Linked DNA regions of Homo sapiens. The protein of the gene in region 1 interacts with the protein of each later gene in a pairwise test. Each region holds a gene or a part of one and is shown in the gene's direction. Other genes may lie near its edges.

Evidence for each region. Proteins that work in one complex are often made in the same cells at the same time.
Region 2: the proteins of ABCC5 (region 1) and SMC2 interact in a two-hybrid assay, tested with the Homo sapiens proteins (one large-scale study listed by BioGRID and IntAct).

What each region holds. Positions count from the first base shown.
Region 1 is NC_000003.12:184,010,735-184,015,937, reverse strand, and holds part of ABCC5 (ATP-binding cassette sub-family C member 5), read left to right. Parts: exon of another isoform or gene 1-379; intron 380-1,490; 5' UTR 1,491-1,545; coding exon 1,546-1,674; intron 1,675-4,518; exon of another isoform or gene 4,519-4,672; intron 4,673-5,203. UniProt on the Homo sapiens protein: ATP-dependent transporter of the ATP-binding cassette (ABC) family that actively extrudes physiological compounds, and xenobiotics from cells.
Region 2 is NC_000009.12:104,114,311-104,119,513, forward strand, and holds part of SMC2 (structural maintenance of chromosomes protein 2), read left to right. Parts: intron 1-380; coding exon 381-519; intron 520-1,889; coding exon 1,890-2,009; intron 2,010-3,860; coding exon 3,861-4,065; intron 4,066-5,203. UniProt on the Homo sapiens protein: Central component of the condensin complex, a complex required for conversion of interphase chromatin into mitotic-like condense chromosomes.

The sequences.
Region 1 (5,203 bases):
CCTCTTCCAGATAATCAGCTAAGCTAGGGAACCCTTGAAGGGGAAGGTTAGAATTTCGTGATTCCCGTAAGAAGGTTACTCTGATCTACAGCTACAGCTCAACACTGGGGACACTGGCAGATGCCAGGTCTGTTTATAGTTTAGCCTTAATGAGGTCTCAATGACGTGATTGCTGCACTCTGGCTTGGTGAGCCGCTGTTCTTTATGGTGTAGTTTGTCATTGGACAAGGTGACTTTTTTTTTTTTTTTAAAGATAAGTAACAGCTATATCAACTTAGGGTACTTGAACCAGAATTCTGAAAGGCAAGAAATCAAGCTTTCTTTGGACTGGAAACCTGTCTTTGCATAGGAGATTTAGTCCTTTTTATTCAGAGGATTAGTAAGTGTTCTCTTTTTATCTGACACTTTAAAAATTGCATTATAATGGTTAGAATTTTGTGCTGCAGAAGTAGTAGTTTTAAGTCACAGCGATAGCCAGGGATTTATGGAATCCAGAAGGCGACACGGCTACACGTCTTTAATTTCCGTTGGAGGCTAGTATGAAAGGTGTTTTCTCAGCTTGTCTCTGGGAGGCTGTGACCCTTCTTAGAGGGGGGAAACATTTTGGAGAAGTATGTATGTGTTTTTTGTTTTTAAGTGACCTGAGTTGATACAGCATATTGATTAGACTTAGCCAGGCAAGCAGTGGTTTAGAATAGAGTTTCAGGTAAAAACTAGGTAAGACTTAGTAATACAGGGTGGAGAATTTGTTTTTGTTATTGTTTTTTACTAACAGCTTTGTTGCCATAGGATTTATATGACATGAAATTCACTCTTTTAAAGTATAAATTCAGTGTGTTTTTTTTCAATGTATTCACTGCATTGTGCAACCATTACCACTATCTAGTTTTAGAACATTTTCAGTACCCAGGGAATTTGTGTTTGAAGTTAAGTTATAACATTGTTTTAACTGGATAACTTCATGGAGCTTTAAAATAACACCAGCTAACCCATTAGTTAATTATAAAAAGGCAGAGATGGAATATATCATTGGTAGAATAAGTGTTTGGTAAGTTTTTATTTAGTAAAATTTAGTAGAAGAAATGATGTCCACTTTAAAATTGTGGAGTTTTTAATACTTGGGACAAACTGAAATTGTTTCTAGAAAGTCTTTAAAAAAAAAACCAACCTTTCTATTGTATACACTGGATTTGAGCTTAGTTGAAGAGAATGGGTGTCTCTTTACTAGTGTGTTTACTGTTTCTAATTTTTTTTCCCTTAGAGTTGGGAGAAGGTAATTTTTCTTGATTCTCTTATACTGAATCTTTTTCTTTAAAAAAATGAAATCAAAATCTTTGAACTTTTTTTGAAAATTAATTTTTGTAGCTATAACAGTAGAAAGCTTTAGTACTTTTGCCTTTTTTTTTTTTTTCCTATTTTTAAGGCACTTGAGCTTATGGTTAAGTACTGTTTAGGAAATAATCTATTTCTTGATGAATTTTTAATTTCAGGAATTCTGATGTGAAACTAACAGTCTGTGAGCCCTGGAACCTCCACTCAGAGAAGATGAAGGATATCGACATAGGAAAAGAGTATATCATCCCCAGTCCTGGGTATAGAAGTGTGAGGGAGAGAACCAGCACTTCTGGGACGCACAGAGACCGTGAAGATTCCAAGTTCAGGAGAACTCGACCGGTCAGTTTCCTTTCCTAAGAGTCTCTTACCTGCTTGTTGTACTAAAACACATCTTTTTTCGTATAATGGGTAATTTAGAAACTTATTTTTTGGCCGGGCGCGGTGGCTCACGCCTATAAACCCAGCACTTTGGGAGGCTGAGGCGGGTGGATCATCTGAGGTCAGGAGTTCGAGACCAGCCTGACCAACATGGTGAAAACCTGTCTCTACTAAAAGTACAAAAATTAGCCAGGCGTGGTGGCGGGCGCCTATAATCCCAGATACTTGCGAGGCTGAGGCACGAGAATCGCTTGAACCCAAGAGGCGGAGGTTGCAGTGAGCTGGGATCATGCCACTGCACTCCAGCCTGGGCGATAGAGCGAGACTCAGTCTCAAAAAAAAATGTGTTTTTCTTTATTGGCTTTAGGTTACTGTTAAGAATTTATGGTTATTGATAAGTCTCTGGTCCATAGTAAGCACTCAATAAGTGGAAGAGAGGCTGGCTGTCACCCTCTCACCCGGTCTGTTCTGAGCATTCTCCTCTTTTTCACTTTTATTCTATGTTGGTGCCTTCTGAAAAGGCTATACTTAACAGAAGACAACTTATTGAGGGGGAGGGGGTCATGGGGTCAATGACAGGGAATATAAAGCCAATTAAGCTTCATTCATGTACCTAAACAAAATTGGTGTTTTCTTCTACTTTCTGTCATGTGTGTTTAAAATGTGAACCTGGCCAGGCACAGTGGCTCATGCTTGTAATCCCAGCACTTTGGGAGGTTGAGGTGGGTGGGTCACTTGAGGTCAGGAGTTTGAGACCAGCCTGGCCAACACGGTGAAACCCTGTCTCTGCTAAAAATACAAAAATTAGTGAGGTGTGGTGGTGGGCACCTGTACTCCCAGCTACTCAGGAGGGAGGCAGGAGAATTGCTTGAATCCAGGAGGCAGAGGTTGCAGTGAGCCAAGATCACGCCACTGCACTCCAGCCTGGGCAACAGAGTGAGACTCCGTCTCCAAAAAAATAAAAAATAAAATAAAATGTGAATCCTTTGGAGAGACTCAGATTTCAGAACAATTCTAGATAGTTGTGGGATTATCAGTATGTTTTTCAAGCGAATTCATAAGTTAAGCAGTCTTTAGATAATAATCTAATTTCCTCCAAGGGAAATAATGAAGATGCGTTTTTACCTCGAGAAAATATTCTTTTTCCTGAGGAAAAAAAGCATTATACCTTTTCTTACAAAAGTACCTAATAAGGCAGAATGGACTAGGTTTAGGAAGTTGAGGTTTTTGTTGGTGTATTTGTTATGTGAAAATTTGAGAAAGATAATGGACTTTGCAGCTGACACTGGCCTTTCCTTAGCCTGATACTACCTTTCCCTCTTTGGTTGTGTTAAAGCCATTGCTTTATTAATGAACATTTTCTTGCTAATGAGTCTTTTCTGTACCCTACTGTGTATTATAGAATGCTTTTCCATTCAGGTTTAACTTCAGAGAAACAGGCTTAATGTAATCAGTGTCAAATGCTTCTCGTGGTGCCAGTTTTATAACTTCCTCATGTCCTTTTGTCTAGACCTTATGTTGATTAAACATCTATCCATTACATCTGAGTGCTAGACACATTTAGTGTAACAGTTAAGTCTGGAAAAAGTCAGAAGGTAACATTGGGGCAGGGCCTTAAAGGGTGATTAGGTGGGGAGGCTTTTTAGGCGGTACAAGTACAGACCCAAAGGTATGGAAAGAGCGTGTGACATATTGGGACTTTGGATAAGCTACTTACGTCATTTGTATATAAAATGGGGTTGACAGTAGTACCTGACTCATGGGATCACTGAGGAGTAAATGAGATAATACATATAAAATATTTAAAATGGTACCTGGCACATGGCCAGTGCTCAATAAATGTTAGCTCTTAGAACTAGTTGTTCAGGGCATAGGATGTGTAAAGAGATTATAGGTCGGGTGAAATTCTGCATGCCATGCTAAGAAATATTTCACTGTGGGCATTAGGGAACTATTGGAAGTTAATGAGATTAAAAAAAAAAACCTTTTTATTTTGAGCTAACTGTAGATTTACATGCAATTATAAAAAATAATATAGAGATCCTATATATTCTTCATCCAGTTTCCCCCAGTGGTAACATCTTGCATAACTATAGTCCAGTATCACAACAGGATAATGATTGACATTGATACAATCCATTGACTTTAGGATTTCACCAGTTTTATATGCACTCATTTGTGTGTGTGTGTGTGTGTGTGTGTGTGTGTGTTGTGTTCTATGCATTTTTTAAAGGTGTAAATTTGTGTGACCGCTTCCACAGTCAGGATGCAAAGGTTCCATCACAAGGATCTCTCGTTACCCTTTTATAGCCACAGTCATGTCCCCTCAACCCCAGTCTCTGGCAACTGCTAATCTTTTCTCCATTTCTGTAATTTTGTCATTTTAAGAATGCTATATACATTGAATCATATAGTATATAACCTTTCGAGATTGCTTTTTTCACTCAGCTGAACTCCCTTGATAGCCATCTAATTTTGTTGTGTGCATCAATAGTTCTTTCCTTTGTATTGCTGAGTAGCATTCCGTGTTATAGATGTACCATAGCTTCTTTAACCATTCATTTGTTAAAGGACATATGGGTCATTTCCAGTTAATGGCAATTATACATAAAGGTGCTCTGAACCTTCAGTTACAGGATTTTGTGTGAACATAAGCTTTTATTTCTCTGGATTAATGCCCAGGACTGCGCTTGCTGGGTCATATGGTAAGTGCATATTTAGTTTGTAAGAAACTGCAGTACTCTTTCCCAGAGTGTCTGTGCCATTTTACATTCCCACCAGCAATGATCCAGTTTTTCCACATTGTTGCCAGTACTCAATGTTATAATGTTTATTTTAGCCATTCCTATAGATGTGCCTGGTATCTGATTGTGGTTTTAATTTGCAGTTCCCTAATGGCTACGATGTTTGAGAGTAGATTTTTATCTTAGATTAGTCTTGAAGCAATGCAGAAAAAAACCTGTACAGGAGAAAGAGACCAAATATAAAGAGCATTCAGGAAGCGGCTCTGCCTATCCATGTCAGAGAGGCCAGGGTTCTGTTGTAAAGCACAGAAGTGAGGATGGAGGAAAGGCGTTTCTAGAAGATAGGGAGGCATTGGGGTGTCTGGGATTGATGGTAAGGATTTAAACCTATTCGTGGACATAAGAAAAGGAGATTGGGGAGATATTAAGAATGAGTTTGGGCCGGGCACGGTGGCTCACGCCCGTAATCCTAGCACTTTGGGAGGCCGAGGCTGGTGGATTGCCTGAGCTCAGGAGTTTGAGACCAGCCTGGGCAACACAGTGAAACCCCATCTACTTGGGAGGTTGAGGCAGGAGAATCGCTTGAACCTGAGAGGCGGAAGTTGCAGTGAACCAAGATCGCGCCATTGCACTCCAGCCTGGGCAACAGAGTGAGACTCCATCTCCAAAAAAAAAAAAAAAAGAAGAAGAATGATTTTGATTTTGAAGATGTTGAATTTGAAGTGCATATGGGTAAAATTATCAGT
Region 2 (5,203 bases), on another chromosome or scaffold:
GAGGGAAATTTAATCTCAGTTCAAAATGTCTTCAGAGTTACTGTATCATTAATGTTAAATATCCACATTTACATCTTATAATTTGTTTTGCTATGTGGGTTTTTTATGGAATATTTACAGTAATCATATGTATTATAGGGATTAGAACATCAGAGTTGTTCTTACTACATTGAAACATACTGAAAGATCTATTGTGATTTAAAAACAACAGCTGGCTAGTCATTTGGGACATTTTAAAATTTTTGGTTTGTTAAAACCATTTTGCTGATTCTACTTTCATTTCACTTTAATGTGTTGTCCAAAAGAGCTCCTGATGAGTAAAGTATAACTTTTTCTACTTTATTATCTAAGATTAATTTTTGTCAACTTTTGTATTTCAGGGATCCAGAGAAGAACTGGAATAGAAATTGTGTGAAAGGACTTGTGGCTTCTCTGATTAGTGTGAAAGACACTTCTGCAACCACAGCTTTAGAATTAGTGGCTGGAGAACGACTCTACAATGTTGTAGTAGACACAGAAGTAAGTTGATTTTAATTTTAAAAAATTTAAAATTTGGTTAGCTTGAAAAGTCATGTGCTGCTAAAAGAATTAAATACTTTGATGTTTTAAGGCTCTCCCCTAAGGTGACTTATTTATAGGGTAAAACTATTTGGTTCATAACTTTTTGATAACTATTCCAAAGGAGGTCTCATGCTTACTCAGAAACTCAGAATGCATATTACCAATCTTAAACTTTTGGGATCTCTTTGCTGTATAAGTTGAATTTAATTTGTAAAATAATCTGGGAATAAATGACCTGTTTTTGATGTCAGTCTTCCCATCAAGGTAACATTGAATTTATTTACATTTCTTCAGTTCTCACTTATTATCCTTCTGTAGAATGCTCATATTCTTTCCTGTAAATGCTACGTAGTCATTGTCAAATTTACTTCCTTGTTTTTTTTTTAATTTATTTTATATATATATTTAAAATGTACAAGAAGCCTGGGTATGGTGGCTCACACCTGTAATCCCAGCACTTTGGGAGGCTGAGGTGGGCAGATCATTTGAGCCCAGGAGCTCGAGACCAGCCTCAGCAACGTGGCAAAACCCCATCTCTACTGAAAATACAAAAGTTACCCAGGCGTAGTGGCGTGCGCCTGGAGTCCTAGCGACTCTGGAGGCTGAGGCACAAGAATTGCTTGAACTTGGGAAGTGGAGGTTGCGGTAAGCTGCGGTAAGCTGAGATTGCACCACTGCGCTCCTGCCTGGGCAACAGAGGAAGACTGTATCTCAAAAAAAAAAAGAAAAAAACAAACGTACAAGATGTTTTGATACATATACATAGTGAAATGATTATTGTAGTCAGACATATTAACATAGCCATTCACCTTCCATAGTTACCTTTTTTGTGTGTGACAGCACCTAAAATTTACTCTTAGCAAATTTTCAGTATATAGTATTAATTATAGTCCTCATGCTATACATTACATCTCTGAATAGGTAGATTTATTTATCCTACCCAACTGCAAATATGTACCCTTTGACCTATGACCTACTTCTACCCATTTTCTTTCACTCCTCATCCCTGATAACCACTATCCTACTCTTTTTATTTGTTCAGCTTTTTTTTTTAAAAGATTCCATGTACAAGTGAGGTCATACAGTTTTTTATTTTTTCTTCGTCTGATTATGTCACTTAGCATCATGTCCTCTGGGTTTATTCATGTTGTCCCAAATGGCAGCATCTCCTTTTTCAAGTTCAAATGATGTTCCATTGCATATGTAATTATAACTTGATTGGGATAAATGGCACTAAACATTCATTTATTATAGACTACTAAACTTGCATTCTCTCAATTTTCTGTCATTTTTAACATGCGTTTTTTAAATTCAAATGTGTGTTGTAGGTTACTGGTAAAAAGCTACTAGAAAGGGGGGAACTGAAACGTCGATACACTATAATTCCACTCAATAAAATTTCAGCCAGATGTATTGCACCAGAAACTCTGAGAGTTGCTCAGAATCTTGTAAGTCTCATTTTGTCTTATTTATATGTTTAATCGTCATCTGTGGTTTTTTTAAGTTAGAAGACATTAATTTTGAGGGACATAATCATATGCAGAACCACAAAATTAAAATACAAAAAAATTGGGTTGGCTTGTGCAATTAGATGATAAGAGAATAGAGATGTTGGAAGACTTGAACTCCTTTTGATGCTTCACTTTGTGGTATTAGAATGTCCTTTTTAACCTTAAGTCACATGACTATCAATCAGGTGATGGTGAAAATTACACTCTTGATTCCTGAATGGTTAGAACTGAGCTTCTAGATACGTACCCCAAATTCTTCAAGTTTTTGTTTTTGTTTCTTTTTATGTCAGGCATACTAAAACTGCCCACAGTCACAGCCATTATGGAAGGCCTTCATTAGTATTGCAGTGATGCTTCTTTATTAGAGTTCTTCTAGATTGCTATTCAGCCTGTGCAGGTACATAGCAGGTGACCAGGATCCCATTCAACTGCTGACGTTGATCTAAAGTGACATGCTTGCTAGTAAGAAAATAGATTAGTACAAGGAAATACATTTAAAAGTTATTGTAGTTGTGTAATACTGTAAAAACATGAAGTCAGTCATAACATTCAGCTGTAATATCAGTTTTTTTATTGATCAGACATTCCAAGTACATCAGTTGAAAAGACATTTCTATGAAACTTAAAAATATACTTGTAACTAAGTGGATGTTGTTGTATCCTTAGTTACATTCAGAAGATTTCAATGCAAATGATTTCAAAATACAGTTGTGTTGATATGTATACTATCAGGAGAGGGAGGATGAGTGCTGAGTAATTGAAAGGTGATGTTTTTGGTTGGTACTTTCTTTACTTGAAAACTCACCATTAAGTCAAGAAGGCTCAGGAAGTTAATTCAGCCATACATCGAGTCCCAGCATTAGAAGGAAATTGGGATTTCAAGTAACAGCAAAAATACTTTGCCTCAAATCCTTTAGCCAAACCTATTTGATGGTAGCTGCCACATCAAAGAACAATACTGAACATGTGTTACATAGAGCTTCCTTCATTGTGACTGCCACTGCTGATACTAAGCTCTAAAAGAGATGCTTAGTTTTTCTTAAATGATGGGCAGAGGTAGCCTCTATAAACAAAGGCTGAGAAGAAGCATTGTGATCAAAATAGAGGACTGGGGATTTTTTAAATTACTTTTACTCTCAGTTATTGTGTTTTCATTTCTGTAACTGGCAGACGACTGCTCTAGCATGTTTCATTTGTATGAGAAAATATTTGTTGTGAAATCAAATTCCTGATTATTGAAACAACATTTTCATATAGTTGTGTTGATCTGGAAATTATAGGTTAAGCACTCCAAGTCCAACAACTGAAATTTTCCAAAATTCAAAACTATGACACCCAAAAAATGCTCATTGGAGTATTTTGGATTTAGAAAGTTCAACCACTGTAATACAAATATACCAAAATCTGAAAACAAACACTTCTGTTCTAAGCATTTAGGATAAAGGATACTCAATCTGTACTATAATTAAAGTTGTGTCCAGTCAACGTTGGTGAAGGACACTTAGAAACATGGTAATGGCTCCTTATTGATAGAAACTTTCATAATGCTCCATACTAGCTATTAATAAATATTTTACTTAGCAATAAATCTTTCAGTATTTAAACCTGCAGTTTTTTTTTCCTGAAACTTTGAGTTTTACATAGCTTTTTAGAAAATTCAGAAAGAGTTTTAATGCTAGGTAAGTATTATTTAAGTTTCTATTACAGCAGTTTTTACTGGTTTATAAAATCATATCTGAAAGGAAAAGTAGTAGTATGTACTGTGGCATATCTGTTGTTGTCCCACAGGTTGGCCCTGACAACGTTCATGTGGCTCTTTCCTTGGTTGAATATAAACCAGAACTTCAGAAAGCAATGGAGTTTGTCTTTGGAACAACATTTGTTTGTGACAATATGGATAATGCCAAAAAAGTGGCCTTTGATAAGAGGATAATGACTAGAACTGTAACTCTCGGAGGTGATGTGTTTGATCCTCATGGGACATTGAGTGGAGGTAAGTTTTATATCCTTTTCTCCTCACAATTCTTTGTGGTAAATAGGAAGATGCCTTTTTTAAGTACATTTTTAGCCCAACTACCCACTTCTTCAGGAAACATGTTAACTTCTCATTTGTGTGTTTGCCAGTGCCACCTACCTCCTGTCAAAAGTAAAACAAAAAATTAAACCTGCCCTTGAAATGGTACCTTAATGCCTTAAAGGAATTCTTAGACAGTGATCATATTCTTCTTGGTCTAGTATTTGCCACACTGAGTTTGCAGATCTTTGTCAAGACAATAGAATAACAAACACTGAATAATATTTACTGTATACCAGACAGTGTTCTACACTATGCTGTCCAATACAGTAGCCACTAGCCATATGTGACTTTTTACATTTAATTAAGTTAAAAGTAATTTCCTTGGTTGCATTAGTCACATTTCAAGAGCCCATAATCACAAATGGTTAATGGATAATTCGACAATGCAGATATAGAACATGTCTATCATTCTATAAAGCCCTATTCTATGGGCTTTAAATAAGAATTAGTTCTTAATAACAACGATGAGGTAGGCATATTATTATGATCTCTAATATACAGTTGCAGAAATGAAGATACAGAGTGCTTAAATAACGCACTACAGGGTGGCAGAGCTTAGAATCTGAATCCCAGCAGTCTGATTTCATAGTTTGTGTTTTTAACCCAGTAGACGGCATAAAGCCACTTGAGGTATCAAGTGACTTAATGTTGCTCTCGGCCACGAAAACATTAGCCGGTTCAGTGAATTCCATGACTAGGTATCAGATTCTCCAGTACACAATCAAATGACTAGTATCTGCAAATGGAAGATAAAAAGAGACTGTGTTTTTAAATGTCTACAAGAGAAGAAACTTTTTAGATTTTGTTGATTCAGATGCTTTTGAAGTTTTTACTTATAGGATATGAAATAAGTAACCCCGTATTTTAATTACAAAGTGTTTAAAAGCATTTTTAATTGACCTTAGCATTCTTCCATCAAACCTGTGGAGTTTCTTTGTCAACATAATACCTCAACCTGTGACTGCCAGATAGTTATAGTTGCATAATGTGAAATCGGCTTATTCTGCTTGCCGTGCTGTATCAGAACTTAGGTCAGCCCCGAAATCTTAGCTTA